4 linked regions of the Homo sapiens genome follow. The protein of the gene in region 4 purifies or fractionates together with the protein of the main gene of each other region. This does not show direct contact. Each region holds a gene or a part of one and is shown on either strand. Other genes may lie near its edges. The genes, in order: UFD1, DRG1, CLPTM1 and SLC13A3.

Region 1 (7,900 bases), on a different chromosome or scaffold from region 4:
CATGCCCGGCCCAGACCCCCGTTTCTAATCTCCAGTGCACCAATGCATCCTCAGCATGTCAAAAACTGAGCTATTGTCTTCCATCCAGAAGCCACTCCTCTTGCTGGGCTCCTGCCTCTTACCAGGAGTGAGATAGGCCCACAGGGGTTCTAAGAGTGGCCACATTCTTCCTCCCTTTTCTCTGACCCCTTATCCCATGAGAGCAACCTGGAAACCCATGCCCTAGCCCCATACTACACAGGCACAGAAAATCCCTATCATGGACAACCCAATCAAGGATGCAGTCATTGCCTTCCAGACTTAAAGAGTGTTTCTGGTGTGAATTCTTCCTGTGTGAGGCAGGAGACTGGGGTTGGCCAGGAGGACAGGTTCATGCTTGGTTTTGGGGGCCTCTGGTGGCAGCAAGCAGAGAACAGGTGCTGGCTGTGGTGTGACTCACCTCGGGCTCTTTGCCCAGCCTGACTCCAGAGTAGCAACTTGACCTCTCTGAACCTCAATGTCCTCTTCTTTAATTGGGGATATCTACAGTGTCTGTGCATCAGAAGTACTGTAGTGTCTGTGACAACCTAAGCTATCCGATTCCAACCACAAGGTGGAGGTAGCCCCTGAGCCAGCACTGGCTGTGGCTATACCCAGTGGAGGCCTCAGCTCAACCAGTAGGTCAACAGAGCTATGGAGTTCACAGTTCTCACGAAGACCCTGTCATTACAGAGGAGAGAACAGGCTCCCTAAAAAGGTCTTCCTTTCAAGTCATGCTGACCCAGGAGCCAGACACCAGGGGTGACCCTTGGCACAGGTGTCCAGAAGAGACTCAGGGGCTGGGTCATTGAGGTGTAGCTCAGATCAGTGTTGTTCAAATCTTTTAAGTGATGGGAGAAACTCTTTCTGTCTAAATCTTATAGGAAGTCCTCTAATTCATAAAATGAGGTTCTCTGCTTTTTTTGGAGAAAGTGAGGGGGTACAGAGGGACTGGGAGCCCCAGGGCACTGGGAGCCTCTAAGTCACAAAATGCAGTTTGAGAGTCAGTGGACTGAGGGACATTGGAGTCTCTTTCACTTGCAACAATCTCAGACCCTTGGCTGAGCCCAGTCCAGTTTACTGTGGACCAGCTGTATGTCAGCTCCATGGCTGTGCAGCTGAGAGGTGGACCGGGACAGAGGTCCTGGCCCCTTTACTGCCAGTGTGAGAGTCACCCTTGGTGATAGGAGGGAGTGCCCACCCTTACTGTACCTCCATGCTACTCTCAGAGGTTCTCTGTAGCTTCCTGCCCAAGCTTTTAACTTGATTTGCTTTATTAGAATTTTTAGGGAGATCTCAAATGGAATCTGCGTTACTTCCTAACACTAAGTGTGATTTTTATTGGAATATTTGTCTGAACTAACAAGCTAAATTCTGCTTTGATGGTTGAATCCCTGGACTTAAGCCAGCAGCCTTGGTTTGAATCCTGGCATCACCACTTGTGTGCTGTGAGGTCTTGTGTGCTCACCACTTGTGTGCTGTTACTTAACCTGTGGGCCTTAGTTTCCCCATAGATAAAAGGGGATAATGATAGTACCTACCTGACTGTTCTGGGAAGACTGAACAAGGGCCTTACACATGGCAAACACCATCACTACCATCAGTTCCTTCTCGGTCTTCTCCCGGGGGCCCAGTGTCTCCTGGGTTTTCCTGCCTCTTTTTGCCAGCCCTTCCTTTATGTGCCTGTGCACCTCTTGGGTCAGCACGTCACCAGTCCAGCTTACTTGCCTCTGGCCTTGCTTTCAGCCCACACCTCAAGGTCCATCAGAGAGAGGGGGCGTCCTATGTCATGACCCTGCTGAGAGCTCACACTGCCCGCTGGGCCCAGGCCCTAGGTTCTACCCCGTGTGGTGCCCCTCCCCTTCCCAACCACTCGCACACCTGTCCCCAGCCTGTCTTGCCTAATTATCCACCATTTCTGAACTGCCTGGGCTCCTCTTCCCTTCCACGCCTTTGCTCAGGCTGCCACCTCTGCCTGGATTTCCTCCCAGGTCTGCCCGCCCAGTGCCCAGCCTAAAGAACTCGGCCTCTAGGAGCCTAGCCCAGTAGCTCTGCCCCCTCCTGCCAGCTCTTCCCACAGCACCTGCAGCATCTGGTTGTGGTTTTCTTTGTTGGAAGGTTTCTACCTTCAAACTAGAAACCTTTGAAGGTCGGGATTTTGTCCAGGGCATGGTGGGCACTGAAATTATTTATGAATAAATGAATGAACACATCACTTTTTAAAATGTTGACTTCAGAAAATCACAAGTCTATGCCAGTGCTGTGTTACCAAGTTGCCAGGTTCCTCCTTGAGCCGTGCACTGTGCTCTCACAGAGGGGGATTCATCTGCCAGAGGAGTGTGGGGTTGAGGGCAGGATTGTGGGGAGGCTCCTTCTATGGGAAGGCGTGGGCCGAACAGGTGTCCCTTCATAGGAGCTGTGCCTCATAGTCTCTCTCTTATTTTCAGGCCGACTTAACATTACCTATCCCATGCTGTTCAAACTGACCAATAAGAATTCGGACCGCATGACGCATTGTGGCGTGCTGGAGTTTGTGGCTGATGAGGGCATCTGCTACCTCCCACACTGGGTGAGTGGGGCTGCCAGGGTCTCTAGAGAGCAGCCACTTAGGCAGAGACATCTCCTGCACTCGAGAGTCCTGGCCCTGGAGCAGGTGGCCCCGCCTACTCCTCCTGCTCAGCGTCTTAGCCTGAGCCGACCCAGCGAGAGAGAAGGGATCCAGAGCAGTGCACTGTGCCTTATGCGGGCTGGTGGGCTCTGGACGCACCTGTGGGCCACTGTGCTGTGGGAGTGGCCTTTTCTTTGATAGTTGCGCAGCTGAACTGTTCATCTGTGATTTCCTGGGTGAGGCGTTTTTAAAAATAATGGAGCAACAGTATTTTTTAGGTGGTCTAGTAAGTAGGGTGTTTGAGGTTTTTATGCTTTTCCCCTACTTTTAGTAGTCTGTCACAGCATACATGTTTTCAGTTACCTCTGACGTAGTCTCCCAAATCTCTCAACTGAGCTGCCATGGGAGTGACGTCTTTTTCCTTACAAGCAGGCTCTCTTTGGAAAGTTGACTTGAAGGATGTCATTGCAGATCTGGGCTGGGATATCCAGGGCGTGTGAGCCACCAGAGCCTGCCCTCAAGGCTGTACCCCTCAGAGAAGTGAGCAGAACTGTGCCAGTGCTGTAGGGAGGAGCCTGCAGCAGTGAGAGTTCCACACAGGTAGCTGTGGCCCACTTGGCTCCTTCTTCTCCTCACTCCTCTCCCCAGCTCTGGCACATTAGGGAAGTTCACAAAGGGACCTGCTTGTCCTTCTCTTTGTGCTTGGATTACATCAGGCATACTGAGAGACCCCGCAGTGAGCTGTGGGCTGGAAACTCTCAGGAGTGCTTGCTTGGCTGCCACCAGGGAGGTGGTCTGAAGCACAGCCCACCTCTCCTGCTGATGCCCTATCATGGTGGCCGCCAGACGTTCAGAAGGGATGGCCTTAACTAATATTTTCTGAGATTAAATATGAATTGAAATTCTGGCCAGGTACGGTGGCTCACGCCTCTAATCCCAGCACTTCGGAAGGCCAAAGTGGGCAGATCACTTGAGGTCAGGAGTTCGAGACTAGCCTGGCCAACATGGTGAAACCCCGTCTCTACTAAAAATACAAAGACTAGCCGGGTGTGGTGGCACGTGCCTGTAGTCCTAGCTACTTGGGAGACCGAGGCAAGAGAATGGCTTAAACCCAGGAGGCTTAGGTTGCAGTGAGCCGAGATCATGCCATTGCATTCCAGCCTGGGCGACAGAGCGAGACTCCATCTCAAAAAAAAAAAACAACAATAATATGAATCAAAATTCTGAAGGTCTCTTTCCTGCTGTAGCAGGTGACCTTGCCCATGCTGCCATGGTAGTGGCATCCTCTTCAGCCTGGGTCCCAGGGTCCTTCCCAAGGTCTGGGCCTGGCCAGTGTCTCCCCGACAAGAGCCCTGCACTCCCATTGCACCTCCTAGTGCCTGGCCTTCCCATGCTGCCTCCTCACCTCAGCTGACTAGGCCTGCCCAACCTGGCCTGTTGGGGGGCTTTTATGCCTCAAAGCCCAGATTGGCTCACCTGCCCTCCCCAGTATTTGCTGCTCAGCCCCTTGCTATTCTTGTGTTTGTCTGCAGGTGCCCCCAAGGGCCTGAGGCCACATTGTGCTCATCCGGTAGAACACCTGGTCACTGAAGCCACTCTAGGTAGCTGAAGTGTCAGGCAGTGACTACTTCCCCAGTCCCTTCTGTGGCTCACCTATAAGAGGAGGTGGTGATGCTGGGGATACACTGTATCTCGAAGGTTCTCCTTTAACCCATAGACTTGAAGTTTGGGTGGCCTCTTGTCCAAGCTGTTGGACTGCTTTAGACCAGGAAACTAATTGAACCCTTTCTCCCCTGGAAAGCCTCTTTAGGTAGCCTGGAGCTGGTTTGGGGTGTGAAGCCATCAGGCCACCTCTTCCCCTGAGCTGGCCTTCCAGCTCCTGGCATGGGCAGGCGGGTGACAGGTATACCCCATCTGCTGTCTTGGAGGGCATGTGAGCCAGTGCTTTTTCTGGGCTGGCTGGTGGACTCCATCCCACCCATGCTCCCAAGCTTCTTCAGGGCGAGCCAGCCTGGAATAGGTACTGGCCTTTTTCCTTGTAGCCAAGGCTTCGTCTGCTGACCTAGATCCGAGCCCTGGACTAGCCGTTTGTGACATGTGGGTACTCGGCTGCCCGTTGTGCTGTATGCTCTAAAATGCTGCATGGGGAGGGCCAGGCATCAGCTCCTCCTGCCTGCTTAGTGCTCTCAGGCCTCTTCCAGCAGCCCATTTCTCACCTCAAGCCCTAGTCTGACCTCTCTGCCTGTCCTCCTCACATCACCTATGGCAGTGTCCTGCCTCTGGCTGAGGAAGCCACCCCCCATCCCTGGCCAGCCTTCCCTCAGGCTTGCAATTGCAGCCCAGTATCCTTCCCCTCGCTGACAAATTTCCCACAAAAATCTACCCAGGGACAGTGCGCCTGGCCTGCGACTGGCTAACTCTGAGCCTTAGAATACTTCCTGTTAGAACATCACTCCTGGGGATGCCAGACCCCCGTTACCAAAGCCAGTCACCTCTGCATCCTTCTGTGCCTGCCTGTGGCATTTGGTAGAGTGACCACCCTCTATTTCTGCCCTTACTAGCCTGACAAGCAGCTGTCAGCGTGAGTGCATGGGGTCCTCTGCAAGCCTATCCATAGGGCCCACCACTCAGGCTTCACTCATGGCCTAGGCACGGCTTCCCAGGCACAGCCTCGGCCTCAGCATGCCTCTCCCTCCTCATGAGCTCCCTCTCATTTGTGACACAGCCCTCAGCCCCCTTTTCCCTTGGCTGTTAAAGTCACCTTCTCACTGCCACTCCCGATGAAACATTCTTGAAGGGATGTGATACCTGGGATTTGCTTCAGGGCATCTAATGTGGCTTGGGACTGGGTGTGAGGTAGTGCTGATCGATGGACTGAGCCACGACGTGAGCACTGTCCAACTGTCAGGGCTCGGTGCGTGGGAGCTCTCTTCTACGGCTCTTTCTACTGATGTATATGTCTGACACCCCTTTTAAGACGGTTTCAAATAAGACAAGCAAAATTTCATTGCAAGAGACATAGAGCTTCTGACCTGAGTCTGGACTCCCTGCACACCCAGTACTCATGGGCATTGTTTATCTCTTTCCGTCTCACTTCTCAGCCGTCGTCTACCTGGCTGGGTTGTTTAATAGAGACATGTGGAGGCTTTGTCAGATTTTTATAACCTCCTTAGCAGAGACCTCTGGGGTCTGTCACCATCTTGCAGCCTCAGCTGTGGTGGGCCATTCCATTGCCAGGTCAGCCTTGCCTTGTGCTGCTTTTGTCCTACCTCAGGTGCAGCCCTACTTGACGCAGGGCCTTATAATTTGCTTGTGGGACAGCTTGGAAGTACAGTGAGTGACTATTCCAGGAAAATGCTCTGCCCCTGGGAAGCCTGGAGCTAGTGAGTAATCCGGGCAGCCCTGCAGAGATGCGTTCACACTGTGAGCTATACAGCTTCAGTAGCACCCCTTTATTGGCCTTCTTCCTTCCACATCACTTGATTTTTCCCTCCTTCCTGACATAGTATCACGAATTACTTATCTTGGCTCAGGTTCCTCTTCCAAGGACCCAAGTAAGACGGGCCTGCCCAGTGTATAGGGAGCAGTGGTTGTGGAGGCTGCTTCATCTCTAGGAGTCTCATGTAGCCTCTTCTTCCTTTCAGATGATGCAGAACTTACTCTTGGAAGAAGGCGGCCTGGTCCAGGTGGAGAGCGTCAACCTTCAAGTGGCCACCTACTCCAAATTCCAACCTCAGAGCCCTGACTTCCTGGACATCACCAACCCCAAAGCCGTGTATCTTTTTCAAATAAGCGGAGTTCTTCTAGACAAAGGAGAGTGTGCTGGCGGTTGTTAAACATCATGTACTGTATTGAATCTGTGCCTGCTTTGGGGATCACACATTTGTGATTCAAGTTGTGATTTGAGAATAATGGGGTTCAGCTAGCACATCTGCGTGGCCCTGGCCAAGTGCACTGGGTGCTGTCTGGGCCACCTCTGTCACTTTCCAGACACTTCATGGAGACCACAATGAAGCCCTTCTTTCAGTTGGTCTGTGTCACCTGGCACAAAGCCAGGATGCACAGTATGTCCAGTGGAAGGAGGGAGCAGCTTATCTGCCTTCAGCTCCAGCCCCTTCTGTGGCTCCCTAGTACCTCCGCCCAGCTGTGCACTGGCCCGTCAACCTCACTGCATGCCAGCCTGAGAGCTGATTCACTCCAGGCCAATAGGTAGCAATGACTGCAGTTTCTATGTCACCAAGCAGAAAGCAAAGGTATCAGGTTCTAGTGGATTCTTTTTGTTCACCTCTGAACTTAAGCCAGGTGTATGTGTTGACAGCATCAGGAAGTAGGCAGTGCAGGTACGGGACGGTGCTGTGTGCACCAATCAAGATCTCTAGCTCCATGGCCCTGATTTTTCCTGTTACGATCATGGCATAAGAGTGGCCACTCCATTCTACTTCTTTTTTTTTATTTTTTTTTAATGCATACTTGAAAAAAAAAACAAACAGTCAAACAACACAGACAGATAGGAAGTTAAGAAAAGCTGCCTCCTTTCCCAGTAGCGCTCTCTCCGCATGTTTTCTTAGGAGCAAGGCACTGCTGGGTGTGCTCTGGATGCATATGGGCCATGTATATTCTTTGCTGCCTATGTTCTGGACACGATGGCCTTGTTGAGCCTCCTGTCCCACAGGCAGGGGGATGTCCTATGGGAAGAGCTAGTTAACTTGTCCTTCAGAGCTCTGACCTAGACATGCTTGTTTGGCTGTCAGTGACCAGGAATGGGCCATGCCCATTTTCTCAGGGTTTTTACATGTGTTGCAATGCAGACTTTTTTTTGAGACGGAGTCTCACTCTGCTGCTCAGGTTGGAGTGCAGTGGCACGGTCTCAGCTCACTGCAAACTCTGCCTCCCAGATTCAAGTGATTCTCCTGCCTCAGCCTCCTGAGTAGCTGGGATTACAGGTGTGCACCACCACACCCGGCTAATTTTTGTATTTTTAGTAGAGACGGAGTTTCACCATGTTGCCTAAGCTGGTCTCGAACTCCTGACCTCAGGTGCTCCACCTGCCTCAGCCTCCCAAAGTGCTGGGATTACGTGCATGAGCCACCGCGCCCTGCCCCAATGCAGACTTATCAGGTTGATCTCAGATGCTGTTTTGTCAGCACAATTAACTTGTTAGTGTGTGGAGAAAGGGCGTCACTTCCATCAGTTGAGAGCCTGGTGTTTTCTGGTCTGGCTGAGGTCTGGATGAAAGCAGTCTTGGCACCGAGCAGAGAAAGTGGGAAGCTGGTG
Region 2 (7,900 bases), on a different chromosome or scaffold from region 4:
TATAGAGATGGGGTCTCACTTTGTTGCCCAAGCTGGTCTTGAACTCCTGGGCTCAAGTGATCCTCCTGCCTCAACCTCCCAAAGTGCTGGGATTATAGATGTACAGGCATGAGCCACCATGCCCAGCCTACCCCACATGCCCTCTTGACTGAAATACCTGGATGTCTCACTGGCATCTAAAATTTAACATCCTGATCTTCTCCTTCCCTCCAAATCTATTCTACCAAAAGTCCTACCATTTTAGTAATAAGAGTTCATTTTTTTTTTAGCTCAGGAAATAAAAAACATGGCTGGGTATGGTGGCTCATACCTGTAATCCCAACACTTTGGGAGACCGAAGCAGGAGACAGCTTGAGGCCAAAAGTTCAAGACCAGCCTGGGCAACATGGCAAATCTCCGTTTCTACCAAAAAAAAAAAAAAAAAAAAAAATTAGCCAAGCCTGGAGGCATGTGACTTAGCCCTAGCTACTTAGAAGGCTGAGGCAGGAGGGTCACTTGAGCCCAAGAGTTTTGAGCTAACAGTGAACTATGATTGTGCCACTGTACTCCAGCCTAAGCAACAGAATGAAACCGACCAGCCTGGCCAACATGGTGAAACCCCGTCTCTACTAAAAATACAAAAGTTAGCTGGGTGCGATGGCAGGCACCTGTAATCCCAGCTACTCAGGAGGTTGAGGCATGAAGCAAATGCTCTTCTTCAAGATATCCACTTGGTTCACACCTTCATGTCACCTCAGTAAAGACTTCCCTGACCAACGTTCTTAAAACTGCAACCCTCACACCAACACTCTTATCTCCTTTCCCTACTTTGTGTTCTTATATTTATCATTGACGAATACATTATATTTTACTCATTAACATTGTTTTCTATTCTATCCAATTAGAATATAAAAGCAGGGGGTTTCACTATTCCCTCTTCCATTCCTGCCCAGAGCCTAAAATAATGCTTGGCCCGTGGTAGGCACTCTATAAATTTGTGTTAAATGAATGAAAACAGAAGATATTGGCGGCCATCTACTTTATGCAAGCATAATATTGGTCCACACGCCCATATCATTCCCAATAGATAATCCAAAAGAGGAAATAAGTAGCAAAGGTAAGTCTGAGACTGGCTCCTATCCTAATCTTGAAGTTTTTCTTGTCAGTCATTATAAAGTCATTGTGTTATCTCAATTAGTGCAGGGAAAAGCCAGGAAATTTTCCAATGTCAGGGTCCATGCACCCCAATCCACTCCCCATTCCAATTCCTGCAGCAGCCTGCCCCATGTCATATTCCCCACTTACAGTGGCTGTGAGATTAATGCCTCCCTTGTCCTTCTTCTTAAAGCCAATGTTGGGGGGTTTGCTGTTCAAGCGAATGCCAAAGCCTTCCAGCTCATTTTCAATTATCTTCTTATGTCCCAAAGGTTTCAGGACATCCAGAACAATCAAGATCAAGTTACAGGTTCGGGCCACTGAAGAGTAAGAAAAAAACATACGCAAGAAAGTTCAATAAAGCCTTAACTAACCCAAATACTCAAGTAGAGGTGTTTTTTCCCCCTACATTTAAGTGTCAAAGGATTTTTCTGTAATACATACATGCATACGTGAAGTTCTTATAGCTACAGAAGATTTATACCAGAAGTCAATTTGCTTTGTATGCCATGAAATCAGCACCTATTTGCCCAAGAGTTGACACATTTTCTGTTGCCCAGGCTGGAGTGCAGTGGCACAATCTTGGCTTACTGCAACCTCTGCCTCCCGGGTTCAAGCGATTCTCCTCCCTCAGCCACCCCAGTAGCTGGGACTACAGGCACATGCCACCATGCCTGGCTAATTGTATTTTAGTAGAGACGAGGTTTCCTCACCATGTTGCCTGGGCTGGTCTCGAACTCCTGAGCTCAGGCAATCCGCCCACCTCAGCCTCCCAAAGTGCTAGGATTACAGGCATGAGCCACTGCGCCCACCCTTGGTTAGCAAATTTTTAACCAAATTTATTGAGGTACAATTTTTTTTTAATTGTATCCATGTTAAAGCACACAGTTCAATAACAAATGTATATACCTGTGTAACCACCAAACCAATCAAGACATGGAATATTTCCATCACCTACAGCATTCCTTTGTGCCTCCTTTCAATCTTCCCCACTATTGCCAGCCAACCACTGATCTGCTTTCTGCCACCATAGTTTGCACGTTTTAGAATTTCATATAAATGGAATCATATAAAATATATTATTTTGGCCTAGCACAGTGGCTCATGCCTGTAATCCTAGCACTTTGGGAGGTTGAGGCAGAAGGATTGCTTGGAGCCAGGAGTTTGAGACCAGCCTGTGCAACAAAGTAAGATTCAATCTGTATAAAAAAAAAAAAAAGTAGTCTTTTGTGCCTGCATATCTTATTTTTATTAATATATATTTATATTGACAGAGACAGAGTCTCGCTCTATTGCCTAGACTGGAGTGCAGTGGCATGATCATAGCTCACTGTAGCCTTTAACTCCTGGCCTCAAGCAATCCTCCTGCCTTGGTCTCCCAAACTGCCGAGACTGCAGGCATGAGTCACAGTATCTGGCCTTTTTCTATATTAAAATTCATTTGTCAAAAATCCTGCTTCCAGCTGGGCACGGGAGCTCATACCTATAATCCCAGCACTTTGGGAGGCTGAAGCGAGAAGATCACCTGAGGTCAGGAGCTTGAGACCAGCCTGGTCAACATGGTGAAACCCTGTCTCTGCTAAAAATAGAAAAACTGGCCGGCGCAGTGGCTCACGCCTGTAATCCCAGCAGTTCGGGACGCTGAGGCAGGAGGATCACAAGGTGAGCTGATTGAGACCATCCCGGCCAACATGGTAAAACCCCATCTCTACTAAAAATTCAAAAAATTAGCCGGATGTGGTGGCACATGCCTGTAGTCCCAGCTACTTGGGAGGCTGAGGCAGGAGAATCTCTTAAACCCGGGAGGCAGAGATTGCAGTGAGCTGAGATTGCGCCACTGCACTCCAGCCTGGGCAACAGAGCGAGAATCCATCTACAAAAATAAATAAATAAATAAATAATTAGCTGGCCATGGTAGTGGACACCTGTAATCCCAGCTACTCAGGAGGCTGAGGCACGAGAATCACTTGAACCAGGGAGGCAGAGGTTGCAGTGAGCCGAGATCATGCCACTGCACTCCAGCCAGCCTGGGCAACAGAGCGCCATCTCAGAAAAAAAAAAATATTCTGCTTCCATCAACTTTCTAGTTCCTCATTTTTTAAAATTCTCTTTTTTGAAGAGACAGGGTCTCGCTTTGTCACTCAGGCTGGAGTGCAGTCGCATGATCATAGCTCATTATAACCTCCACCTCCTGGGCTCAACTGATCATCCTGCCTCAGTCTCCTTGAATATCCGGGACTACACATGTGTGCCATGTCACATGGCTATTTTTTTCTTTTTTTTAATTTTTATTTTTGTAGAGACAGGGTCTTGCAATGTTGCCCAGGTTGGTCTCGAACTCCTGGCCTCAAGTGATCCTCCTGCCTCAGCCTCCCAAAGTGCTGGGATTACAGGTATGAGCCATTGCACCTGACCCTGACCCCTCATTCTTTTTTTGAGATGCAGTAGAGACAGCATTTCACCATGTTGTTCAGGCTGGTCTTGAACTCCTGACCTCATGATCTGCCCACCTCGGCCTCCCAAAGTGTTGGGATTACAGGCGTGAGCCACCATGCCCAGCCTCAGTGGTAGACTTTTTTTTTTTTTTTGAGATGGAGTTTCACTCTTGTTGCCCAGGCTGGAGTGCATTGGTGCGACCTCAGCTCACAACCTCTGCCTCCTGGGTTCAAGCAATTCTCCTGACTCAGCCTCCCAAGTAGCTGGGATTACAGGCATGGACCACCACTCCTAGCTAATTTTGCATTTTTAATAGAGACAGGGTTTCTCCATGTTAGTCAGGCTGGTCTCAAACTTTCAACCTCAGGTGATCCGCTCGCCTCAGCCTCCTAAAGTGCTGGGATTACATGCATGTACCACCATGCCCAGCCTGATTTTATTTTATTTATTTTATTTTTTTGAGATGGAGTCTTGCTCTGTCATGCAGGCTGGAGTGCAATGGCGTGATCTCGGCTCACTGCAACCTCCGCCTCCTGGGTTCAAGCTATTCTCCTGCCTCAGCCTCCCAAGTAGCTGGGACTACAGGCATGCATCACCATGCCCAGCTACTTTTTGTATTTTTAGTACAGACAGGGTTTCACCATGATAGCCAGACTGGTCTCAAACTCCTGATCTCAAGTGATCCACCCCCCTCAGCCTCCCAGAGTGCTGCAATTACAGGCATGAGCCACCAAGCAGCCATGATTTTATTTTTATTATTATTATTTTTTGACACAGAGTCTTGCTCTGTCGCCAGGCTGGAGTGCAGTGGTGCAATCTCGGCTCACTGCAACCTCTGCCTCCCAGGTTTAAGCGATTCTCCTGCCTCAGCCTCCCGAGCAGCTTGGGACTACAGGCGCGCACCACCACACCCAGCTAATTTTTGTATTTTTAGCAGAGACGGGGTTTCACCACCTTGGCCAGGTTGGTCTCGATCTCCTGACCTGGTGATCCACCCGCCTCGGCCTCCCAAAGTGCTGGAATTACAGGTGTGAGCCACCATGCCCGGCCTTATTATTATTATTATTTTTTTTTTTGAGACAGGGTGTCTGTGTGCTGCCCAGGCTGCAGTGCAGTGGCATGATCATGGCTCACTGCAGATTGACCTCCTGGGCTCAAGAGAACCTCCTACCTCAGCCTCCCGAACAGCTGGGACTACAGAAGCATACCACCACATCCAGCTATTTTTTTTTTTTTTTTTGAGACAGAATCTTGCTGTCACCAGGGTGGAGTGCAATGGTGCAATTTCCGCTCACTACAACCTCTGCCGCCTGGATTCAAGCGATTCTCCTGCCTCAGCCTTCTGAGTAGCTGGGACTATAGGCACACGCCACCATGCCCAGCTAATTTTTATATTTTTAATAGACACGCGGTTTCACCATGTTGGCCAGGATGGTCTCGATCTCTTCATCTTGTGATGCACCTGCTTCAGCCTCCCAAAGTGCTGGAATTACAGACTATGGAATTACAGGTACCTGCCACCATGCCTGGCTAATTTTTGTATTTTTAGTAGAGATGGGGTTTCACCACGTTGGCCAGGCTGGTCTTGAACTCCTGACCTCAGGTGATCCACCCACCTTGGCCTCCCAAAGTGCTGGAATTACAGACTGTGAGCCACCACACCCGGACGGCCAGTGATATCTTAAGCCCAGTGACTGAAGTGATAGAAAAGGAGGTCAGAGAGGCAGCCAGGGGCCAGGTCATTTACCGTAGCTTGTAAGCTATGTTAAGACTTTGGGTCTCATCCCAAATAATATGGGAAAACATCAGAAGGTATAGCCAACAAATGACATGATCTGACTTCTTTTTTTTGTTTGCTTTCTTGAGACAGAGTCTCACTCTGTCACGCAGGCTGGAATGCAGTGGTGTCATCTCACCTGACTACAACCTCCGCCTCCCAGGTTCAAGTGATCCTCCCATCTCAGCCTCCCAAGTAGCTAATTTTTGTATTTTTAGTAGAGATCGGGTTTTGCCGTGTTAGCCAGGATAGTCTGGAACTCCTGGCCTCAAGTGATCTGCCTGCCTCTGTGCTGGGATTACAGTCATGAGCCATCGTGCCTGGACTGATCTGACTTCTTATACACAATCATACTAGCTGTAGTGAGAAGATACTACAGAGCAGTAGGATAGCAGCAAGAAGGCCAGTTATGGGGCTATAATGTTAGAGACAAGGCATAATGAAGGAAGTGACAATATAGGTGAAGAGTTTGCAGTCACTACGAATCAAAGGGGAAAAAAAAAGAAGGTGTTGGGGAAAGTGACCCATTATACAGAGAAAATTAAAATTGGATACCCTTCTAATATCAGATATAAGAGTAGTCTCTAGGTAAATAAAGGACCTAAAAGTATAGAAAAAACAGGAGACTATATCTAAGACCTAAGGAAAGATAAGGACTTCTTAAATAAAACTTTAAAAGCACAAACCATAAGAAAAAATAAAGAGTAGGCCAGGTGCTCACACCTGTAATCTCAGCACTTTGGGAGGCCGAGGCAGGCGGATCACTTGAGGTGAGGAGTTCTAGACAAGCCTGGCCAACATGGTGAAACCCCGTTTCTACTAAAAATACAAAAAAATTAGCCAGGCGTGGTGGCACACACCTGTGGTCCCAGCTACAAATAAAGTGTAGATTCTAACAAAATTAAGGATTTTTATTCAACAAATACCACCTTGGACAAAATTAACGGGAGAAGATATTTATAATGTCTAAAGATGACAAGGAATTAATATCGAGAGCAGTGGTATCCAATAAAAGTTTCTGTAATAATGAAAATATTCTGCATCTGTACTGTGCAATACAGTAGTTACTAGTCAAGTGTAGCTAATAAACACATAAAATGTGGTTTACATAATTGAGGAACTAAATTTTAAATTTTATTCAATTGTAATTAAATGTTAGTCACATGTAACTAGTAGATATCATATTAGACATAGAATTTAAGAGAAATACTTGAAAAACAGTAAGACAACAATCACTGCCTAGGCAATATATCGAGATTCTACCCCTAAAAAAGTAAAAATCAATCAGCCTGCCATGGTCGTACATGCCAGCAGTCCCAGCTACTCGGGAAGCTGAGAAGAGAGAGACTCTCGAGCCCGGGGTTTTCGAGACCACCCTGAACAACATAGTGAGACTGTCTCTCAAAAAGTAAAAAATTAGCGGGTATGATGGTACATGCCTGTAGTCCTTAGCTACTCAAGAGGCTAAGAAGGAAGGATCACCTGATCCCAGGAAATTGAGGCTGCAGTGAGCTGTGATCATGCCACTGTACTCCAGCCTGGGCAAGAGAGCAAGATCCTATCTCTAAAAAAAAAAAAAAAAGAAAATGTGCCATGAACTGAGAAGCATGATTAACTCAACCTTTTGGTAGAGTTTCCTCCTTAGCATAGTAGCCAGCATGTCAGTCACATAAGTTTTTCACTTAAGGATGAAAAAGGGGGAAAAAAAGAGTGGCTGGCCTCTAGATATATTTCAAAGGTAAAACCAGCTGGATATAACAACACAGTAGATGTGCGGGATGAAAGGGAAAAAAAGATTTGACCTAAAAGTTCTGAAGGATAAATTTGCCTTTACTGAGATAGAAAAGACTAAGGGAAGAGCAAGTTGAGGATGGGAGATCAAGAATTTTTTTGTTTTTTAATTTTTAAATTTACTTTCATTTTTTAATAGAGATGAGGTATCACTATGTTGCCCAGGCTGGTCTCAAACTCCTGAGCTCAAGTGATCCTCCCGCCTCAGCTAAGATCAAGAATGTAATCTTACACGTTAACTTTGAGACACCTAATTAGACATCCAAGCAGAGATATGTTGGCAGCTGGTATGCACTTCATCAGAGGGCAAATTACTGCCACACATTTCATAATCATTAGAATATAGATCCAGACATTTAAAACCAAAGAACTAGATGAAATAACTCTCATTTGGCATAGACAGAGCAGAGACAGAGAAAAAAAGAATCTCCAAGATTAGGTGTTGGGGCAATCCACATTTAAAGAGTCTGATGATGGGGCAGATCAAGCAAAGGAGACCAGGAAGGGGCACTGGTGTCAGAGATCAGGTAAAGCAAATACTCCAAGGATGGAGTGATCAACTGTGTTATTCTCTTTAGAAAGATGTGGACAATAAATTGGCCATCAGGTTTGACAACAGGGAAGTCATATGTGTTCTTGTTAAGAATAGACAGGTGTCGGGAGGGCCCGGTGGCTCACCCCTGTAATCCTAGCACTTTGGGAGGCCAAGGTGGGTGGATCACCTGAGGTCAGGAGTTCAAGACCAGCCTGGACAACGTGGTG
Region 3 (7,900 bases), on a different chromosome or scaffold from region 4:
CCAGGATTGTCTCAATCTCCTGATCTCGTGATCTGCCCACCTTGGCCTCCCAAAGTGCTGGGATTACAGGTGTGAGCTGCCGCACCTGGCCCGAAAAGAAGCTAAGTATTTTTCTTTTTTCTTTTCTTTTTTTTTTTTTTTTTTTTTTTTTTTTGAGACAGAGTCTCGCTCTGTCATCCAAGCTGCAGTGCAGTGGTGTGATCTTGGCTCACTGCAACCTCCGACTCCCAGGTTCCAGCTATTCTCCCACCTCAGCCTCCTGGGTAGCTGGGACTACAGGCGTGTACCACCACGCCCGGCTAATTTTGTATTTTTAGTAGAGACAGGGTGTCACCATGTTGCCCAGGCTGGTCTCAATCTCCTGGCCTCGTGATCTGCCCACCTCAGTCTCCCAAAGTGCTGGGATGACAGGCGTGAGCCACTGAGCCCGGGGACTTTTCAGCTCTTCCTTATGCTATGAAGGAAAACTCAGTCTGCCCTCCCTCAAGTCTCTATCCTGTCCCCTGGGGCCAGGGAGAGACAGGGAAAGGGGAAAGAGACCTGGCCAACAGCGGGGGCTCTGGGGGCAATCTTGGCTCTGAATCCTACAAGCTAAGGGATGCTGGTGAGTGATGTCACTTCCCTAAAGAAGGAAGAAAAGCCTCACCACTTCTTGGCCCAGGGCCTACTGCTTATTAGCAGAAACGTCATCCTCATTTTTTTTTTTTTTTTGAGATGGAGTCTCACTCTGTTGCCCAGGCTAGAGAGCAGTGGCATGACTTCAGCTCACTGTAACCTCTGCCTCCTAGGTTCAAGCAATTCTCCTGCCTCAGCCTCCCGAGTAGCCGGGATTACAGGCATCCACCACCATGACCAGCAATTTTTGTATTTTTAGTAGAGACGGAGTTTAACCATGTTGGCCAGGCTGGTCTCAAATTCTAACCTCAAGTGATCCACCTGCCTCGGCCTCTCAAATTGCTGGGACTACAGGCTTGAGCCACCTGGCCAATCCTCATCATTTCTATGATTATTAAATCATTGGGGATCTTCCTCCTGTGTCCAGGGGGAGAAACCAACACTCAAGGGTTGACTTGGAGAAAATTCCAGGGGGACATGCCCCAATCGTGTCCACACCTGACAGAGACTGTCCAGGGAAGGGAGAGCCCCAGAGGGCAGCGCTGGCTGGTGGAGGGGGAGGCACAGGGGAGAGAGGCTTTGGCTCAGGCAAAGAACACATTCTGCAGCTTGGAGGCATCCAGACCAGATGGACCTGGCTCCTGTGGGGAGGAAAAAGCCCCCCTTTCTTGGAGGAAAATCTTCTAGAGCTGCACCATCCAGTATCAGGGTTGCTGGCCACATGCAGCTACTGGGCACTGCAAATATGGCTGGTCCAAACCAAGAAGTGCTATGATATAAAACACACGCTAGACCCTTTTTTTTTTTTTTGACATAGTCTCGCTCTGTCGCCCAGACTAGAGTGCAGTGGCACGATTTCAGCTCACTGCAACCTCTGCCTTCTGGGTTCAAGTGATTCTCCTGCCTCAGCCTCCCGAGTAGACGGAATTACAAGCGTTAGCCACCATGCCCGCCTAATTTTTGTATTTTTAGTATAGCTGGGGTTTCATTATGTTGGCCAGGCTGGTCTCAAACTCCTGGCCTCAAGTGATCCACCTGCCTCAACCTCCCAAAGTGCTGGGATTACAGATGTGAGCCACCGTGCCCAGTCACACACACTAGATTCTGAAAACTGACACAAGGGGAAACAAAAATGTAAAATATCTCACTTTTTATACTGATCATATGTTGAAACGAGAATATGTTGAGCTCAATTAAACTATTATTGATATTAATCTCATGGTTTTTCTTTACCTTTTTATTTATTTATTTGTGAGACAGGGTCTCCTTTTGTTATCCAGGCTAGAGTGCAGTGGTGTGATCACTGCAGCCTCAACCTCCTGGGCTTGGGTGATCCTCCTACCTCAGGCTCCCGAGTAGCTGGGATTACAGGCATGTGCCACCATGCCTGGCTAATTTTTGTATTTTTATTAGGGGGGGTTTTGCCATGTTGCCCAGGCTGGTCTCGAACTCCTAGGCTCAAGCAATCCTCTAGCCTTGGCCTCCCAAAGTGCTGGGATTACAGGTGTGAGCCATCACGGCCCTGGCCTTACCTTTTTATTATTTTATTTATATTTCTTTTTGAGACAGGGTCTCGCTTTGTTGCTCAGGCTGAAGTGCAGTGGCCTGATCACAGTTCACTGCAGCCTTGACCTCCTGGACTCAAATGATCCTTCTACCTGAGCCTCCTGAGTCGGAGGACACTACAGGTTGCGCACCACCATATCTGGCTAATTTAAAAAAATTTTTTGGCTCACGCCTGTAATCCCAACACTTTGGGAGGCCAAGGCAGGTGGGTCCCCTGAGGTCGGGAGTTCGAGACCAGCCTGACCAACATGGAGAAACCCTATCTCTACTATAAATACAAAATTAGCTGGGCGTGGTGACACATGACTGTAATCCCAGCTACTTGGGAGGCTGAGGCAGAATTGCTTGAACCTGGGAGGTGGAGGCTGTGGCGAGCCAAGATCATGCCACTGTACTCCAGCCTGGGCAACAAGAGTGAAACTCTGTCTCAAAAAAAAATAAAATAAAATAGGCCAGGCGCGCTGGCTCATGCCTGTAATCCCAGTGCTTTGGGAGGCCAAGGCGGGTGGATCACGAGGTCAGGAGATCAAGACCATCCTGGCTAACACGGTGAAACCTGGTCTCTACTAAAAATACAAAAAAACCATTAGCCGGGCGTGGTGGCGGGCGCCTGTAGTCCCAGCTACTCAGGAGGCTGAGGCAGGAGAATGGCGTGAACCCGGGAGGCAGAGCTTGCAGTGAGCCGAGACTGCACCACTGCACTCCAGCCTGGGCAACAGAGCAAGACTTCATCTCAAAAAAAAATAATAATAAATAAATAAAATGAAATAAAATAAATAAAATAAAATAAAATTTTTTTTTGTAGAGATGAGGTCTCCCTATGTTGCCAGGGCTGGCCTCAAACTCCTGGGCTCAAGCGATCCTCTGACTTTGGCCTCCCAAAGTGCTGGGACTACAGGCATGAGCCACCGTGCCTGGCCTCTCTTTACCTTTTTACTCTTTAGTATTTTTCTATTGGAAAAATTTTAATGCCTTCTCTGGCTCACATCCTATCTCCATGGGACGGAGCTGCTCTAGAATACTGATTATTGGCCTCTTGGGGATAAAAGGGGCTTTTCTTTTCTTTTTTTTTTTTTTTTTTTGAGATGGAGTCTTGCTCTGTCGCCCAGGCTAGAGTACAGTGGCACGATCTCGGCTCACTGCAATCTCCGCCTCCGGGGTCCAAAAGATTCTCCCACCTCAGCTTCCCGAGTAACTGGGATTACAGGCATGTGCCACCATGCCCAGCTAAGTTTTGTATTTTTAGTAGAGACAGGGTTTCACCATGTTGGCCAGGCTGGTCTCGAAGTCCTGACCTCAAGTGATCTGCTTGCCTTGGCTTCCCAAAGTGCTGGGTTTCCAGGCATGAGCCACCACAACCAGCCAAAAGGGGGCTTTTCTGAACTCACACTCTCCTTCACCCTGGAGTTTGTGGGTGGCTCACTCCAAGTCCTTCTATGTCCCTGCTTTGAGGGTCCCAGCTCCAAGGCTGGGGAGGGAGGCCTGGATGATCCTAGTATGCTTTTCAGGTTCACTGTCTGCAGGTTCTATTTTACAGACCAGACTGACTGTGAATAAACCTCACCACACAGTGACATGGATCACACTCACCAAAGACAAAACTGCAGAAAATACTGGCATCGATTTGGGTCAACGGGATGATTAGGTGATCGTCAAACGGGGTACAAGAATAGGGTGAAGAGCCACCCACCTGGGTCACCTTCAGAGCGACCTCTGAAACATCGGGCATTTTAGCCCAGACCCCTGACGTATCCCCCTGCAGGGAAACATCTGTGAGACCAACCCTGTAGGTCACACCCCCTCAAGCCACTTCTGCCTGGTTCTCCAAAGATCTCACCACATGGACGTCAGCCGGGTGGGACATACCAACGCAGCACATTCTTCAGACACACTCACTCAGAAAGGGGCTCAAGTAACTCCAGAAGACCTTTCCAAGTCATTTCTAGGGACCCACATAGAGTCAACTTTTCATTTCATCCAGTATAGGTGATAAAAAAAAATTACCATCCTTTAGGATATTTTTGTACTAAAAGAAGTAGGTAAGACCTAACTCATACAAATAGAATTCTGTCTGTTGCTGCGCCACCCAAAACCAGCCAGATGGATCTTAACCAAATCCACAGGGAATGTCTGGAATAGTCCTCAATAAAGTGAAAGCTAGGTGGAGTACACAGAACTCCCGTTAGAAGAATGGGGGGCTTTCTGAGGAAGCCATTCTCCAGCTCCGCTCAAACAGGTACAGCAAGAGATTTCTACGGCTGCCCATCAGGAGACAGAGGACTCAGGGAAAAAGCTCACAGAGAACCAAGCAAGGCTGGGTGTGGCAGCTCACACCTGTAATCCCAGCACTTTGGGAGGCCGAGGCAGACGATCACTTGAGGTCAGGAGTTTGAGACCAGCCTGGCCAACATGGCGAAACCCCGTCTCTACTAAAAATACAAAAACTAGCCGGGCGTAGTGGCGTGTGCCTGTAGTCCCAGCTATTTTGGAGGCTAAGGTGGGAGAATCGCTTGAACTTGGGAGGTGGAAATTGTGGTGAGCTGAGATAGTCCACTGCACTCCAGCCTGGGCGACATAGTGAGACCCTGTCTCAAAAAAAAAAAAAAAAAGAGCCAGGCAAGCAGAAAGATGACAACAATTATTAACTTCTCGAAAACAAGAGGACGGACAATGCTATGGTTTGAATGTTTGTCCTGGCCAAAACTCATGCTGATTCTCCCACCTCAGCCTCCCAAGTAGCTGGGACTACTGATGTACTCTAGTACTCCCCACTCCCAGTGAAACTTAATCCCCAATGTGCCAGTACTGAGAGATGAGGCTTTTAAGAGGTGACTGGGTCATGAGGACCCTCCCCTCAGGAACTGATTAACCCATTCATGGATTAGTGGTTTAATGGATTAATGAGTTATCATGGGAGTAGAAGTGGTAGTCTTATTTTTTATTACTATTGTTTTTTCAGAGACGTGGACTTGCTCTGTCGCCCAGGCTGGAAAGCTGTAGTGCAATCACAGCTCACTGCATCCTTGACCTCCCAGGTTCAAGCGATCCTCCCACCTCAGCCTCCCATGTAGCTGGAACCACAGGTGCTCACCACCATACCTGGCTATTAATTTTTGTAGCAACGAAGTCTCATTATGTTGCCCACACTGTTCTTTGAATTTTATCTATTTTTTTTTTTTTTGAGACGGAGACGGAGTCTTGCTGTGTCACCAGGCTGGAGTGCAATGGCGTGATCTCAGCTCAATGCAACCTCCGCCTCCTGGATTCAAGCGATTCTCCTGCCTCAGCCTCCCAAGTAGCTGGGACTACAGGAGCATGCTACTACACCCAGCTAATTTTTGTATTTTTAGTAGAGACGGGGTTTCACCGTGTTGGCCAGGATGGTCTCTATCTCTTGACCTTGTGATTCACCCGCCTCGGCCTCCCAAAGTCCTGGGATTACAGGCGTGAGCCACTGTGCCCGGCCTCTATCTATCTTTTTGAGACAGGTTCTCGGTCTGTCACCCAGGCTGGAGTGCAGTGGTGTGATTCTGGCTCACTGCAACCTCCACCTCCTGGGCTCAAGCGATCCTCCCACCTCAGCCTCCTGAGCAGCTGGGACTACAGGCACACGCCCAGCTAGTTTTTGTGTCTTTTTTGGTAGAGACAGGGTTTTGTCATGTTTCCCAGGCTGGTCTCAAACTCCTGGGCTCAAGCAATCTGCCCACCTTGTCTCCCAAAGTGCTAGGATTACAGGCATGAACCACTGCACCCAGCCCACAAATTATTTTTGAGTGTCTACTTCTATCAGGCCCCTACTGTGCAAAAGTCAACCCTGGCCCTTCCCCCTTGGTGAAGGACGTCTCCTCCTCTCCAAGAGTCCCTGTCTCCAGCTGCTTTTTCTGGCCAATTTCTCTCTGGTCCCTGAGCCTCCGTGGGTCTCCCTTCCTCCGTGGGTATCCCTGCTTAGTGTCCACAGGGCTCTTTCAGGCTGGGTGGGGCTTGAGCCTGCCCTGCCAATCCCACCCTCTTTGAGCACAGGCTTCCTGCCTGCCCTCCTGGACTTGGGATTTGTCCGCCACATTAGCCTGGGGGCTCCCAGGATGCTGGCCTCCTGGACAGTGGGTCCTGGCTGCAGGGGAGCGACTTACTCCGGGACATGTGGACTGTGGCAAGCCGGCGGTACAGGGCCTTCTGCCGGGGGTCTGGGTGGAAGCCACTCTTGGTGAAGTAAACGTGGATGTAGATGGAGCCGTTCTGCTGGACGCTCTGCAAAAGACGGAAGGTCAGGTGGGCAGGCTGGGCAACTGGGGTGAGGGAAACGTTAAAGCCCTGCCTGGCACCCATCTGCAGCAGTTTCCTCCCCCTCAACTCTCTGGCCATTTACTGAGTACTCAGGGTGGGGCATGTAGCTGGGTGGCAGAGAGGTAAATGCTGGAGTCAGACAGACTCAGACGCCCGCTCTACCTGCCATGGCCGTGTGAGCTCAGCTTCTCTCTGAGCCTCAGGGCCCCACCTAGAGGATGCGAAGTTCCCACAGCACTGACCCGAGGGCACCACTGCAGGGACTACCTGGAGCACTGGCACACAGCTCAGTCAACGAGCTCTCGTTAAGCTCACTCAACAGGAAGAAGCAGCTGACCGACATGGAGCTCCTACTATGGGCCAGACCCTGCCCTGGGCACTTCAGACAACAGCTTCCTAATCTAACGAGTTAACACACATATAACATGTCAACCTTATGCAATGGGTCATGTTACCACCCCATTTTGCAGATGAGGCAAACGGGGCTCATGCCAAGGGGTCACATAGTGTGTGGCAAGTACGCAGATGGAAACCCAGTCTGTGGGCTCCTGGGTGCTACTCCCTGCTACCTCCAGCTGGCCCCTCTCTGCCCAAGTCTTCCTCATTATCTCATCAAGTCTCCTTGCCTCCCAGGGAAGGGGGACTATTCTCACTTGATCCAGATGAGGAAACTGAGGCTTCAAGAAGGGAGGCAAGTTGTCCAGGGGCACTGGGTGGAGACAAAGGCGAGCACTGAACCTCTCTGATCCTTGTGCAGAGCTCGAATTCAGTTGGCCACATTGTGTTCTCCTCACTCTCCCTATCTTTTTTAGAGATGGGGTCTTCCTGTGTTGCCCAGGCTGGAGTGCACTGGCTATTTGCAGTTGCGATCATGGCACACTACAGTCTTAAACTCCTGGGCTCTGGCCATTCTCCCACCTCAGCCTCCTGAGTAGCTGTGCCTACAGGCACATGCCACTGTGCCCAGCTCTCCTGCCTTTTAAGTCCACTTGGACCCCACCCTGAAGCTTCGACTTAGATCCAAGCCCTTGGAAGCAGATCCCCCTGCTGGGCCTGCCAGGCCCTGGTCCTTCCTTGGATCTCGTGGCAAGGCCTGGGGGCTGGGCTTGAGGTCTCTGTGGGAGTCACCTCTCAGTGCAGGTCAGAAAGTCCAGCCAGGTGGGGTGGTTCATGCCTGTAATTCCAGCACTTTGAGAGGCTGAGGTGAGAGGATCGCTTGAGCAGAGGAGTTTGAGACCAGCCTGGGAAACATGTTGAGACCCCATCTCTACAAAAAATTAGCTGGGCATGGTGGTGCATGCCTGTTGTCCCAGCTACTTGGGAGGCTGAGGTGAAAAGATTGCTTGAGCCCAGGAGGTTGAGGCTGCAGTGAGCTGTAATTGCACCACTGCACTTCAGCCTAGGCAACAGAGCAAGACCCCATCTCAAAAAGAAA
Region 4 (7,900 bases):
TGGAACAAAGAGGGATTAACCCTTGAAGGCAGACACCACTTCCAGCCTCGGGCTCACGGGGACGTCTCAGTTTTACCCATATGCAGAAGGGGACAATCTTTTGCTTGCCTGAGACATTTTACCCTGGCCTTTTACAAGGCCCCAATTTATCTTTTGACTTTTCTCTCACCCCTGACAAATGGGGCCTTTGATAATTAAACATGCTTACCACTTAAGGTGGGGCATGGAGAGATCAAGGCCACCTGCTGGGACAAGCAGCAACTGACCGCCTTGCAGCCACAGAGGCCTATGGGGGCCACATGTAGGAGAGTCCTGGCTGGAGGGGTCATGAGTCACCCCATGGGAGGGCAGGACCCAGGCCTGGCCTGACCCCAGAATTATGGCCAAACTGACCCAGATGAAACAGGAGAATCCTAAATCTCTTGGGTCGAGATGTCAGCTGCGGTTTCTAGAACTTCCCCTGGTATGCTCAGGAGCCCAGAGAAACAGCAAAGAGGCTTTGCACAGTCTCATGTCCTTGGAAAGCTATCTGTCCCTTTCCCTGTCTCCAAGGATTAAAAAAGAATCTCTGACTGCTGGTTATCGGCAGGGGTAAAACAACTGGTGCAGAATGGGCACCAACTAAGCAAAATCACACACTGGTTGTGAACAGCTGGAACAACTGGGTTGGAACATTGCAGCCCAGGAAAGTGATCTTTAAAGACAAGGTGGTCTCTTCAGTGTAATCGAAAGTAATCACTGGGGGATAATGTTAGCTGTGCCCATGGGAATGAATGGCCTCCTATCCCAACTGTACGAGACAAACACCATGCCAGATTTGCTCACTGTTGATGACACTGGGCTGTCTTGTATCCTAATGATAAAACAGCTAACTGATAAAGGAGCTTATTTCTCAGGCAGCAGATCTGAGAGATACCTGGGCTTTGAACTGCATGAAAGAGAGAGAAAGTATCCTAGATAATGGCTCATGGACTTGAGTGGGCCACTGGAGGTCACCCTTGCTTGCTGCATATTGGATTACAGAAAAGAATTATTTGATTGTTTTGTAGTGTCCTAGCAGCAGGTGATGGTGACAGCCCTTTGAGAGGGTTCAGCCTCAAGGGAGTCCTCCAGGGGGACTCAGAGGGTCCGAAATGTGTCATTGGCCAAGGTGGGTGGCAATGCTGTGACATTGACCGAGTACATATCAGCCCAGTCCGGGAAGGTGCCCAGCTGGAAGATGGTCTGTGCCCAGGTATTCATAGCCAAACTGAGCAGCAGGACACCCATCAGGTTCATCAGGAGGCCTGTCCGCACCTGAAATAGAGCCCAGACAGAGGGAGGGGTCAGCACCTGACCCACCATACAGATGGAAACATTCAGACTCAGAGACAGGAAGTCACTCACCCAAGATCGCACAGCCAGGAAGTGATGGAGCCAGGACACAGACCCAGGTCGGTAAATGCCTGGGACCCTTCAATCTTTACACTACCCTAGGCTGTCACTCAAAGAGCTGCAAGTGTCCCCATTCATTGATGGCCTCTAGGTTCCAGGCACTGTGTGCTACGCAGTTGTCACAGGGTTATGCTGTTTAACCCAGAAAGCAACCTTACAAAGGTCATTCTTATTAATCCCCATTTTATAGAAGAGAAAAATGAGACCTAGAGAAGTTGACTTGTCCAAGGTCACCTAACTTGAAAATAATCTTGTCTGATCACTAAACACCCCCATCCCACACACATATACACACACGCATGCACACACACACGCATGCATGTAGGAACACACATATGTACACATAGGTACACACACACACTTCAGGTCCAGTCCAGTCAGGTAGTCCTAGTCAAGACTACCCTTGTCCATTGGGAAGCATTTTTCTTCTGTCGGTGGAGAATGTGCCCATCTGCTCCCTACCCTGGCTGGCCTCTTGGACCATTCAGTCCACCTTGGGCTGAAAATCCTTGTTTTCCCACCTGGGTCTTCTGGCTGCCCCGCCTTCACATAGCCCAGGCTGAATCACATGGTGAGACAGTTACTTCCTTTCTAATTCTCTTTCTGTCTATTCCTCCCAGAGAAAGTCTCTCTTAGGGGTGTGATAGGAAAATAAATCTTGGGGCCCCCAAATTACTAAGCTAAAGAGAAAAGTCAAACTGGGAACTACTTAGGGCCAACCTGTCTCCCATTCTATTCAGTCATCCCTCTGCTCACTGAGTTGAATGCATATCTGATTGCCTTCTTTGGAAAGGCTCATCAGAGACTCAAAATAATGCAACCATTTGTCTCTTATATACCTATGACCTGGTAGCCCCCTGCCCTCTTTGAGTTGTCCCGCCTTTCCGGACCAAACCAATGTTCATCTTACATATGTTGATTGATGTCTCATGCCTCCCTAAAATGTATAAAATCAAGCTGTGCTCCACCCACCTTGGGTGCATGTCGTCAGGACCTCCTGAAGCTGTGTCACAGGCGTATGTCCTTAACTTAGGCAAAATAAACTTCCTAAATTTACTGAGACCTGTCTCAGATTTTTGGGGTTCACAGGGGCCACCATGGCTTCAGCACTTCTCTGCTCCTGTCAGTTGCCCTTTTAACAAGGAGAGGCCCAGAACCTTCTCCAGGCAGCTGCTATCAGGGAGAGCTTAATTCTTTTGTTTTTGCCGCTTTGCATTTATTTTTAGGTTTACTGGCCATGGCATATATTAATAATACCGGTTTTCCATTGATGGATGCACTGGAAACATTTCTTCTGGAATATTCTTATTCAAGTTTTTTTTTGTTTTTTTTTTTTAATGTCAAGCTGATTTAGTAAAGGTGTTAAATAAATATTACCACGGACGGGTGGGGGACATACTGCGTGTGCTGTCCTGCCTCTCTTCTAAGGGCACAGAGGTGGAAGCCCTGGCACCTTCGGAGGATTAGAGGGAGTCGGGCCGACATGTTGGGGAAACTGGGGGAGGATTGGGTCTCCCTTTGCCAGGGCTCAAAATTCCTGCTGGTCCCATGTTAGCTACTTCATTAACACCTAACTCATTACTCTCAGGAGCGAACCTGCAGGTGGGCCATCCCTGCCCGGGACTGGCTGACCGGGGGTGCCCCTTGTACCCCTCCACATCTCTTGCAAGTCTCTACCTCTTGGGGACTCTCCATTTCTCTGGCTGTCTTTATTCTCCAAATCTATGCTGTTTGCATTGCTGCCCTCTCAGTCTTTTTCTCTAAGTAGCCTCCCTGCTTCCACACTTGTCCCTCCCACCCTAACGATTCACTCCAGCCAGCAGCCAAAATGATCTTCTACAGACAGAAGTGAAATCACATCATTGCCCTGCTTACCGAGGGTCCCCACTGTGGTTTGAATAAGATACCAAGTCTGTCCTGTCCCCGCTGTTCCCTGACCTCGTGTCTCCAACCTCATCCTTCTCCAACTCCACTGCAGCCACCCCAGCCTCCTGGCCCTGAATTTCTGGAGCACTCGCTGCTATTCCTCTCTTCCAGGCCTTTGTACCTGCTGTGCCCTCCATTGGGACTGCTCTTCCCCTTTTTCTCTGTGAGGCTGGCGGCTTCCCATGATCATCAGCTCCCATGTCACCTTCCTGGAGAGGGCTTCCCTGCCACCCCTCTCCCCCGTCCTCTTACACTTCCTCATGTTTTATTTCCTTCTGAGCACCTAGCAATATTGAAATTTTACATAATTTAGGAAAATCTGCTGAACTTGTTCACGTCTGTCTCCACCAATAGAAAGCAGCCTCCTAGGAGGCGGATCGGTGTCTCTCCCACTCTGCAGTGCCCCCAGTGGCTGGAACATAGAATGCACTCAGTAAATAGTGCTGTAATGAACGAACAAATCAATGAGTCTCTGTCTCGTCTCTTCTCTGTTTGCTCTGTGTCTCCCTTTCTGCCTCGCTCTCACTCTCGCTCTCTCTCCCCATGTGTCCTGCAGGGGTCTTGTGCCTGGAGGGCCTGCATCGCGATTGGTTAAGCAGGTCGCCCGTCTTGGCTTTGACAGCTTTGGAAGGGTTATTTGCAAAGCCAGTGGAGAGGGAAAAGGCCGCAGGAGTCAGGAGCGGGAAGGGAGGAGCTGGTTCAGCAGGGACCTTCCGGGGGAGGGAACATATTGCCAATGGCTGGGCCCTGCTGAAAGCTGGTGGGGTCCTCCCACTGCTACAGTCCTCCGCTTCTGTCTCCTTCCCAGCTGGCTGAGCACTGAGGCCCACCCCTGAGTCCTAGGGTGTGTCTGCTGCTTCTCTCCCCCGAAGATTCTGGGCACGAAGTGGGGTCCAGAGGGAAGGGGAAGTTCCTTGCCTCTGGAGCAAATTTTGGAAAGTAGTCACTAAGGCAGTGTTTCCTGAGATTGTCTAAGTGCAGGAATCATCCCAGAGTCTCTGCTAAATGTATGTTCCTGGTCCCACTCAGAAAGATCTATTCAGAGACTGGGGAGTGGGGTCAGCGTGCAGGAGTCCTGCATAGAGGCCTTGCCCGCCCCCTTGCGGCCCACCCACATCCCGGGGCCTCTGCTGGGAAATGCCCAGACTCACCATGTCTTTGACCAGCAAGTGTCCAGAGGCGAAGGCGATGGAGTTGGGGGGCGTTGAGACCGGGAGCATGAAGGCAAAGGAGCAGCCGACTGTGCCCGGAATCATCAGATACAGGGGGTGCACTCTCAGGCGGATGGCCTGGGCCAGGAAAAGGTGGGAGAGACCCGGAGAGAGACCAACGCAGAGCGACCACAGCAAGAGGGAGAGAGAGAGAGAGAGGCAGTTGGAAAGAGGGACACAAAGACGTAGAGACAGAGAGACAAAGACATCCATAGAGATTGGCAGAGTGGCAGAGAACAACAGGGACAAGTGAGAAGAGAGAGTTAGAGAGACAGAGAGAGAAAGGCAGTCAGAAAGACACATGCACAGGCAGAAACAGAGACAAGCAGGTAAGAAGAGAACCAGATCGAGAGAGAGGTGGAGAGAACATTCCCAGGGTTAGTGACATTCAAGGGCCACACTGTGGTTTGATCAGGGATGGGCTGGGGTGGTGTACCTAGAACACTCCTTCTCCAATGTGAGAGTGCAGAAAAGCACTTGGAGGGCTGGTTAAAGCCCACATGGCTGGCCCCACCTCACCCAGAATTGCTGATTCAGCAAGTCTGGGGTGGGATCCAAGAATCTGCATTCCTGACGTGTTCCCCCGGTGCTGCTGGTCTAAGGACTGTACACTGAGAACCAGGGCTTTAAAATACTTCCTCTGCCTGCTCCTTCCCTCAGCCAAACAATCTCAACCCAGAGTTGGCCTCTGGATACCTCTTGTTGGGGGCATCCCTGGATTTCAGTGAGAAAGAGAGCTCATGAGAGCATCTGTTGGCAGCTCTTCCAAATTTCTAAGACTGTGTGTATCAAACCCCCCTATGAGCTGGCCTCAGCTAGTGGGCCACCAGTTTGTCACCTCTCCTGCCTACAATTCATACTGATCACTTTTATGGCGTTTTACTTAAATAGGATATTTTTGGGCCTTCTAGGGAATTTTTGCAACCCAAAGCATATTTATTTTCTCAAAAAGCTCTAAAATCACCCCCTTGCATGTAAAATGTTTTTTGATTTTGATGATAAGCAAAGTTTACAAGAATGTGTCATTTACAAGTGTCTTTTCCAGCAAAAGCTGCCCCTTACAGACCTGGCTGGGTTCTATGCTCCGTCTCCGTCCCCATACCCCCTATAATACTCTCATTTCTCTCAGTGACCAGGTCCCTCTGAGGACTCCCACCCCATACTGCTATAAAATGGTGAGCCACTTTGGAGGGCAATTTCCTCATCTCTAACGACATTTTAAACGTACATGCTCTTTGACCCAGGAATCTCAGTCACAGGAATTTCTCTAGATGTAATCAATGAATGCATAGACAAGGCTCAGGTGACACGTCATTGTTGAGTAACAGCAAAGTCTGGAAATACCTATATTTCCATTGGGCAGAGAGATTGCTTAAATAAACCAACAACTGTCCATTTATAATGGAATATTCTCCCGTCATTGAAAAATAACACAGTGTATATCTGTGTGCTAACACAGATAAATTGATGCATAAAATAAGCAGACAGAAACCAAAGACAAGGTGCTGCAGGTATGTGTGCTGGGGCATCACTGTTTGCATACAAAGCATTTACTTGCATCATTGATTTAATTTTATCAGCGTGGGTTACATTAAGGTAATTACATGGTCTGGTCTTTAATCTGTTTAAATATAAAACTATATTGATAGTTTCCTTTTTAAAACTCCTAGTATAAAAGCTACCTGATCATGTGTATATTGTTCTTTTCATTCTGTCATGGTTTCATTTTGCTATTTGCATTTCTTTTTACAGGAGATTGAATTATAGCTTTCTCTTCCCTTGCTCTCCTTACCTGGTTTTGGGGCCAGGGTTTTGCTAGCTATAAATTGAGTGGCCATGTCTATTTTTCTATGCTGGTGAACAGTTTGGGTGAGTTGGGAACTCTCTGTTCCTTGCAAATCTGCTAGCTCTCACCCAGCAAACCACCTGGGGCTGGTGATTTTGTTTTTGTTTTTGTTTTGAGACAGGATCTGGATCTGGGTCTGTTGCCCAGGCACCTGCCACTAAGCCTGGCTACTTTTTGTATTTTTTGCAGAGATGGGGTCTCACCATGTTGCCCAGGCTAGTCTGAAACTCCTGAGCTCAAGCAATCTGCCTGCTTCAGCCTCCAAAAGTGCTGGGATTACAGGCATGAGTGGCAGAGCCCGGCCTGGGGCTGGTGATTTTTAGCCCAGGAGTCATCAGCTGGGTAGGGGGAAGGATTTGTTCCCCTGACGGGGATATTTGGGAATGCTAGGAGACATTTGGATTGTCATGATTTAGGGAGGCGCCACTTGTCTCTAGTGAGCAGAGCCCAGGGATGCCACTACACACCCTGTAGTGCACGGATCAGCCCCATACAGAGAATGATCCAGCCCCAACTATCAACAGTGTTGAAACCCCTGCTTTAGAGGGAGGCTACTGCTTTGCTTCCATTAGAATTTCTCCTATGGCCATTTGTTTACTCAGATTTTCTACTTCTTCTTCATCCAAAATTGGTAATTTACCTGTTCTAGAAAACTCTCCATGTCACCATGGGTTAATTTTCCCAGAAGAGAGAATTGGGAGCACTTTGAAAATATTTACTCTATGTATACATTTTTTGAAGGAAAACATCCAGTATTTAAAAAAATTGTACTGTGGTTCTGATACGTTCATGTATTTTGGAAGACAGCAATGGCAACTGTGGCCCCCAGTGAAGGTCCCTTGGCGGGGGAAGATTTCTGAATGTGTGTTGGGGGAGGGGTGCTCCCCTCTTCCCCAGAAGGACCCTCACCAGCTCTGCCAGGACCGGCAGGAAGATGATGATGGTCGCCGTGTTGCTGGCAAACTCAGTGAAGAAGGCGATGACCACAGTGATGAGCAGCACAGCCAGGGCGGGGGGCACATTCTCCAGGGGGTGCAGCTGCCCACCAATCCATACAGACAGCCCCGATTCCTGCGGAGGGAAAGGCATTCCTTCATACCCCAGCCCATCCCCAGCTGCCGCCCCCCAGAGAGGGTTAGGATAGATCACAACAATGACGACCATACCCCTTCCCAGATGGGGAGACTGAGGTGCAGAGAGGGGAGGTGACGTGTCCAATGTCACACATTCGAGCCAAGGTCACACATCTGAGCCAGCAGCCTCTCTACTTCTCGAACTGCTCTCCACTCTATCTCATACAGGCCAGGGACCCAAACCCCTGGGTCTCCAATAATCCATTTGGTTCTAGCACCCCTAAGCACCGATTTAAGTGGGAAAGGGAAATCAAACCAGACCCTCAGTAGTAAAACTTCTCATCCCTCCAGTGAAGGTTATTAATTACCCAAATCATAATAGTTACTTATATAAAATATTCATTATTTTT

The links.
Region 1: the proteins of SLC13A3 (region 4) and UFD1 purify together in Homo sapiens (affinity purification with mass spectrometry; one large-scale study listed by BioGRID and IntAct). This does not show direct contact.
Region 2: the proteins of SLC13A3 (region 4) and DRG1 purify together in Homo sapiens (affinity purification with mass spectrometry; one large-scale study listed by BioGRID and IntAct). This does not show direct contact.
Region 3: the proteins of SLC13A3 (region 4) and CLPTM1 purify together in Homo sapiens (affinity purification with mass spectrometry; one large-scale study listed by BioGRID and IntAct). This does not show direct contact.

The regions. Positions count from the first base shown.
Region 1 is NC_000022.11:19,466,374-19,474,273, reverse strand, and holds part of UFD1 (ubiquitin recognition factor in ER-associated degradation protein 1), read left to right. Parts: intron 1-2,465; coding exon 2,466-2,587; intron 2,588-6,270; coding exon 6,271-6,401; intron 6,402-7,900. UniProt on the Homo sapiens protein: Essential component of the ubiquitin-dependent proteolytic pathway which degrades ubiquitin fusion proteins.
Region 2 is NC_000022.11:31,413,810-31,421,709, reverse strand, and holds part of DRG1 (developmentally-regulated GTP-binding protein 1), read right to left. Parts: intron 1,455-7,900; coding exon 1,285-1,454; intron 1-1,284. UniProt on the Homo sapiens protein: Catalyzes the conversion of GTP to GDP through hydrolysis of the gamma-phosphate bond in GTP. Appears to have an intrinsic GTPase activity that is stimulated by ZC3H15/DFRP1 binding likely by increasing the affinity for the potassium ions.
Region 3 is NC_000019.10:44,975,872-44,983,771, reverse strand, and holds part of CLPTM1 (putative lipid scramblase CLPTM1), read right to left. Parts: intron 6,430-7,900; coding exon 6,312-6,429; intron 1-6,311. UniProt on the Homo sapiens protein: Involved in GABAergic but not glutamatergic transmission. Binds and traps GABAA receptors in the endoplasmic reticulum (ER).
Region 4 is NC_000020.11:46,558,903-46,566,802, forward strand, and holds part of SLC13A3 (Na(+)/dicarboxylate cotransporter 3), read right to left. Parts: intron 7,489-7,900; coding exon 7,327-7,488; intron 4,650-7,326; coding exon 4,512-4,649; intron 1,297-4,511; coding exon 1,120-1,296; 3' UTR 1-1,119. UniProt on the Homo sapiens protein: High-affinity sodium-dicarboxylate cotransporter that accepts a range of substrates with 4-6 carbon atoms, such as the citric acid cycle intermediates succinate and alpha-ketoglutarate (2-oxoglutarate), as well as other compounds including N-acetyl-L-aspartate.